Homo sapiens: one gene and its partner. The protein of the gene in region 1 interacts with the protein of each later gene in a pairwise test. Each region holds a gene or a part of one and is shown on either strand. Other genes may lie near its edges.

Region 1 (3,500 bases):
TGATTTACTCAACTTTAAGCAAAGATATTTTTATTTTTATTTTTTGTTCTTTTAAAAAAATTACTTTAACATTCTTGAACTTTTGTTTCTGAATGTATTAGGTTATATCTTTTTTTTTTTTTTTTTTTTTTTGAGAACGGAGTCTCGCTTTGTTGCCAAGGCTGGAGTGCAGCGGCACGATCTCAGCTCACTGCAACCTCTGCCTCCCAGGTTCAAGCGATTCTCCTGCATCAGCCTCCTGAGTAGCTGGGATTACAGGCACATGCCACCACACCTGGCTAATTTTTGTATTTTTAGTAGAGACGGGGTTTCACCATGTTGGCCATGCTGGTCTTGAACGCCTGACTTCAGGTGATCTGCCTGCCTTGGCCTGCCAAAGTGCTGGGATTACAGGCATGAGCCACCATGTCTGGCCAGTATTAGACTATATCTTAACTCGCTGTTCTCTCCCTTTCTTCCCCACCACACTCCCACTCCGCTTTCCTTTTCTGAGCCCTCTACTAGCTGTGTGAGCTCTCTGTTGGTTGGTTCTAAAAATGGAAAAGTAGTCAAACAGCATTTGTAACAATGCACATATATGTGTTATTTACTGTGTAATCACAGAGGAGATGCTGGACTTTCAGATGGGTCTTTATATTTGTGCCATTCAACAAATGTGTTTTGAGAATTTTGTTCTTTAACTGTAATTTACTCAAAATCATACTGGGTTTTTAAATATTTCGTATTGTAGCTGACTGTACGCTGCTTTCTTTTCCTAGCATTTCTGTTTCCCCTTCTTTCTTTTGAGTAGAAGAAACCTACACCTTTCTTTGCTCTCGGATCTTCTAGCTTCTTCTTCACACTCTTTGTGGGATGCCCTGATGGGCTTCGAGGGCTGCTGCATTGTTGTCGCCCTCGAATTTCTCTCCATTTTACTCTTGGGTTAGTTCTGCCTGTTCCTCACCCCACGTTGTTGTCTGTCTTTGTTCCTTGTTTGTTTTGCTTTAGTACTTTAATTTATTCAGAAGTGGTGCATGAAAGTTTAATTTGGCATCCTTGTATGGTTTACACATTCAGCTGACAATCCGTCTTCTAAGAGTTATCAAAATAACGACCTCCAAAAGTCATCAACACTTTGGGTCTGCTGGTGTCCACCAGCCCTTGTTGGCTTTTATGAATATTTCATTTATGCCTCTTTACACGACTTTGTCCACTGACTTGAACTGGAAGCCCTTCTCCACTCTTGCATGCCTTCACAGAGAAAATCAAGGCCATTTGTTTTAAGCTTCTTTGATTTCTTTTCTCATCTTTTGTTATTACTCTCCTATTATTACCTCTATTTGTAGCCATTCCTCCTTTTTGTCCCAGTGGTAAAAGTGCAAATTCCTGTCCGTGGCTAATTTTGTCCATCTGTGCTTTGGATCTCATTTCTTCCAACCCTTAAATCTTTATTTCTCCTGTATTTCAGCCTTTTACTATATATGCGTTAATATTTATGTATAATGTTTATGTATTACACATTATATGTTATGTGTTATACAGGTATACTTTGATATTTCTGTATTACATGTTATCCATATAAATATATGTAATACTTATGTGGTACATATTACATACTTTAAAGCTTCTTGAAAGCGTGTCCCCATTTATTGTTAGCATTTTGACTGCATGCACACGCCCCAGACACTTTAGCCTGGGCTCTGTCCCCTGCTTATGCCGCTAAAACTGCTCACTGGTGATCTCAGTGCTGTCAAATCCTGTGGATGCCGTTCTGTCCTAATTTTACTTGAAGCATTCAACACTGACCGTTTTTTTTTTTTAATGCCCTCTTTTCTCTCCTTCTCTGATGCTGTTTCATGGCTGCTCCCAACTTTCTTTCCATTCCTCTTAGTCATCTTGTTGGGTCTTCATCTGCTCACCCTTTCGATATTGGTTTTACTCAGAGTTCTGTCCTTGATTTTCTGATCTTAATCACAGCCATAGTTTCATCCACCCCTGGGTGTGGATGTCTTTCAAATCTTAATCTCTAGACCACCCTTTCCCCCCTCAAAAGACCTGGTGCTCGTGCTTGGATGTCTCACTGATGTCTCAGACATAAGTTGTGCCTGCCGTGTGATAGATACTCAATATGGATTTGAATGAATGCGTGTCTTGAATATAGGAATTGAATGGCTCTCAATTTCTACTGTGTGTGTGTGTGTGTGTGTAGCTTTAATAAGCTGCTGAATTATTGCTGAATTATGCTTATTCAGAGTTTGTTTTACAAGGTCATTACCTCTCTTCCTTTTTTCTGTTGTCATTTTAGTAGGTCATTGTACTTTTGTCATAGGAAAGAAGGAGAAGAAAAAAGTTTGTCTGTTTTTGTTGCTGTTTCTTTTTTTTGAGACAGAGTCTCACTCTGTCGCCCAGGCTGTAGTGCAGTGGTGCTATCAAGGCTCACAGCAATCTCTGCTTCCTGGGTTCCAGTGATTCTTGTGCCTTAGCCTCCTGCGTAGCTGGGATTACAGGTGCATGCCACCACACCCAGCTAATTTTTTTATTTTTTCTTTAGTAGAGACAGGGTTTTACCATCTTGGCCAGGCTGGTCTCGAACTCATGGCCTCAAGTGATCCACCTGCCTTGGCCTCCTAAAGTGCTGGGATTACAGGAATGAGCCACTGCACCCAACCATTGTTGCTGTTTCTGAATAGCTGTTATTGAAATGTGGGGGGAGGAGGTCCAAATGGATTCTCAAAGTGAAGTATATGTTACCTGTGGATTTAATTTAGCTGTGCATTCCCAGTCCTTTACTGTCATGGATAATAGACATGAATTGTGTATATATATATTTTGCCATGGATAGTATTTTTCTTTTCGGAGAAGGAGGGGTTTGATTTGGGCAAAGTGTTTATGGGAAAGAGACAGCTGGTGAAGTGTGAGTGTGTGGAAATACATGAGAAACGCCTGATCTCTCCATGTCATCTGCGTTGGTAGAGCCCTGTGCTTGCCAGGTGTTGTGGTGACAGGTGCAAAACAAGGGTGCCCAATTTAGAGGTAAATGCTAAAAGGCCAGTGTCATTTGCGGGTGAATTATTTAATTACAGACAAAGGGTATCAGTTAAACATTTTACAGAGTGCTGTCAGAAATAAAATAGCTTTTAATTTCATGTAAAGTGTTGTAAATGTTCTCATCCATTCTCATGCAGTAGAAAAAATGAAGAACCTAGAGAAAGAATTGGCTGCCGTAAAAAAAATTCTCAAGTGATATTTTTGGGTTTTTTAATAGTGCTTGCTCCCAAAACACACCCTGCCCCCCAACACCAACTAACAGTCTACAGCTTAGAAACGAGCAATGGATAGGGTCAAGAGACCTGGGATCTGCTGTTCCACCTCCTGTACCACACTTTTTTTAGTTGTAAGGGGAAGATTATATGTATTTCCTTCAGTAACGCTAAGAGGAGGAAACAAAATATTCTGAGGTCATTAGAAAGGGAGCATAAGTATTCCCCCTTTTTATTAGAAAGTTGATTGATTATGGCTGA
Region 2 (3,500 bases), on another chromosome or scaffold:
AAATGTTTTCTCTTATTCTGTGGGTTACGTTTTTAGTGTGTTGATAGGATCCTTTGATGTACAAGTTTCTCATTTTGATGAATTCAGTTTTACTTTTTTACTTTTATTGTCTATGCTTTTTATATCATATCCAAGGAATCATTAACAAGTCCAATGTCATGAAGCTTTTTCCTTGCTTTAAGACTTCTATAGTTTTAGTACTTACATTCAGATCTTTGATCTGTTTTGAATTAATTTTTATATGTGGTGTCAGGTAAGGGACCAACTTCATTCTTTCACATGTAGATATCCAGTTTTCCTAGCATCATGTGTTAAAAATTTGTCTTCTTTCTCCTGGTCAAAAATCATTTGGCCAGATATTTGAGGGTTTATTTCTGGGGTCTCTTCTAGTCCATTGATCTATATGTCTTTCTTTATGGGAGTACCACACTGTTTTAATTTCTATAGCCTTGCAGTAAGTTTTGAAATTACGAACTGTGAGTCTTCCAACTTTCATCCTTTTCAAGATTGTTTTAGCTATTCTGTGTCTCTCGATATTTCAAATGAATTTTAGGATGGATTTTTTTATTTCTGCAAAATAACGTCATTTGGATTTTGATAGGTATCGCACTTTCTATAGATTACTTTGGCTAGTATAGACATCTTAACAATATTGAGCACTCTAGTCCATGAGCAGGCATGTGATCTATTTTATTAATGTTTTATTTAATTCATTTTAGCAAAATTTTGTAGTTTCTAGTGTACAAGGCTTTTACTTGTTTGGTTAAGTTAATCTTTAATGTTTTATTCTTTTTGATATAAGTGGAATTGTTTACTTTTCAAATTGTTCACCATTAGTGTATAGAAACGTAACTGATTTTTGCATGTTGTATTTATATTCTCCTATTTGCTGAATTTCCTTATTAGTTGTAACAGTTTTTCAGTGGAATCTTTATGGTATTCCATGTATATCATCTGTGAGCAGGGATAATTTTACTCCTCCTTTCCCATTTTGGTCCCTTTTCTTTCTTTTTCTTGCCTAATTGCTATGTTGAACAGAAGTGCTAAAAGTAGCATCCTTATCTTGTCCTTAATCTTAGAGGAAAATCTTTCAGTCTTTCATTGTTGAGTATAATTTTAGCTGTAGGTTTTTTTTTTTGCATATGGATTTTATTATGTTTAGGTAATTTCCCTGTATTCCTGGTTTTCTGAGTGTTTTCCCCACGAAAAAGTGTTGCATATTGTCTAATGCTTTCAGTGCATCAGCTGAGATGATCGTTTTAATTTTTTTAGAGATGGGGTCTTGCTATGTTACACAGGCTGGTCTTAAGCTCCTGGCCGCAAGCGATCCTCCTGCCTCAGCCTACCAAGTAGCTGGGATTACAGGTGTAAGCCACCACTTTGATCAGTTTTTGTTTGTTGAACCATCCTTGCATTCCAGGAATAAATTCTATCTGGTCGTAGTGCATAATCCTTTTAATATGCTGTTGAATTCAGTTTGCTAGTGTTTGGTTGATGGTTTTTGCATTAATAATCATCAAGGATATTGGTCTGTAGTTTTATTTTCTTACACAATCTTTGTGTCATTTGGAATCAGGGTAATGCTGGCCATACAGAATGAGTTTAGATGTGTGTATGCTACAGTTTTTTGAGAGAATTTGAAAAGGATAAGTATTAGTTCTTAGTTAAATGGTTGGTAGAATTCATCTGTGAAGCCATCAAGTCAAGGGCTTTTCTTTAAGGTTTGTCTTTTTTTTTTTTTTTTTTCTTGAGACAGAGTATTGCTCTGACACCCAGGCTAGAGTGCAGTGGTGTGATCTTGGCTCACTGCAACCTCCACTTCCTGGATTCAAGCAATTCTCCTGCCTTGGCCTCCCGATTAGCTGGGGTTACAGGCACATGCCACCACACCTGGCTAATTTTTGTATTCTTAGTAGAGATGGGGTTTCACCATGTTGGCCAGGCTGGTCTTGAACTCCTGACCTCAGGTGATCCACCCACCTCAGCTTCCCAAAGTGCTGGAATTACAGGCATGAGCCACTGCACCCGGCCAGGTTTGTCAATTTTGATAACCTTTTCAAAGAAACACCTTTTGGTTTTGTTGATTTTTTTTTTATATTGTTTTTCTCTTCTCTATTTTATTTATCTAGACTTTAGTCTTTATTATTTTTTTCCTGCCAGCTTTGGTTTTAGTTTGTTCCTCTTTTTATAATCCCTTAAGTTGTAAAAATAGATTGTTGAGTTGAGATCTTTCTTCTTTTTAATGTTTATAGCTATAAATTTCCCCTTTAGTACTGCTTTTACTGCATCTCCAATTTATTTCCCTTCTGATTTCTTCATGGCCCCATTGGTTTTTCAATATTGTATTAATTTCTACAGATTTGTAAATTTTTTAGTTTCCTTCTATTAAGAGTTCCCAACCTCATCCCACTGTGGTTGGAGAAGATACTTTGTATGATGTGTGTCTAAATCAAATGAGGCTTAATTTATGGTCTGTCCTGGAGAATGTTTTTGGTACACATGAGGGGAATGTACATTCTGTTGTTGTTGGGTAGAATGCTCTTTATATATTTGTTAGAGCTAGTTGGTTGTTTAGGTCCTCTGTTTTCTCTCTTCTCTCTGATTGTTCTATCCGCTGCTGAGAGTCAGGTATTGATGTCTCTAACTGTTATTGTAGAACTATCCATTTCTCCCTTCAGTTCTGTCCATTTTTGCCTCATGTGTTTTGATGGTCTATTATTAGGTGCATAAGTGTTTATAAGTGTTATATCTTCTTGCTCTACTGAACCTTTTATTAGTATATAATATCCTTTTATATCTCTTGTTACCCTTTTTGATTTAAAATCTCTATTGTATGATATTAATGTAGCCATTCTTACTCTTTTTTGCTTGCTATTTGCATGGAATATCTTTTTGTAGGCTGTCACTTTCACCTCATTTACATCTTTGGATCTAAAGCAAATCTCTTGTAGACATCATAAAGTTGGATCATGGGTTGTTTTTATTTTAACCCATTCTGCCAATCTTTGTCTTTTGGCAGAGTTTAAGCTAAAAGTTGGGAGCATTTAAGGCATTTACGTTTAAGGTAATCACTGATAAGGAAGGGCAGACTTCTATCATTTTGCTCTTTGTTTTCCCCATGTCTTATAGCCTTATAGCTTTTTTGATCCTAATTTCCTGCATTACTGCTTCTTTTGTGTTTGGCTCACTTTTTTTTTTTTTTTTTTTTAGTGAAACTTCCCTTGTCATTTCCTTTATGTACTTTTTTTTTTTTTTTTTTTTTTTTTTTTTTTAATGGTGTCTCACTCTGTTGCCCAGGCTGGAGTGCAGTGGGGCGATCTCGGCTCACTGCAACCTCTGCCTCCCATAATCAAGCGATTATCCTGCCTCAGCCTCCTGAGTAATCCCTCCTGGGATTACAAACGCACACCACCACACCCAGCTAATTTTTGTATTTTTAGTAGAGACAGGGTTTCACCATGTTGGCCATACTGGTCCCAAACTCCTGACCTCAGTTGATC

Evidence for each region.
Region 2: the proteins of NDEL1 (region 1) and ZNF211 interact in a two-hybrid assay, tested with the Homo sapiens proteins (2 studies listed by BioGRID and IntAct).

Annotation. Positions count from the first base shown.
Region 1 is NC_000017.11:8,456,384-8,459,883, forward strand, and holds part of NDEL1 (nuclear distribution protein nudE-like 1), read left to right. Parts: intron 1-3,500. UniProt on the Homo sapiens protein: Required for organization of the cellular microtubule array and microtubule anchoring at the centrosome. May regulate microtubule organization at least in part by targeting the microtubule severing protein KATNA1 to the centrosome.
Region 2 is NC_000019.10:57,636,168-57,639,667, forward strand, and holds part of ZNF211 (zinc finger protein 211), read left to right. Parts: intron 1-3,500.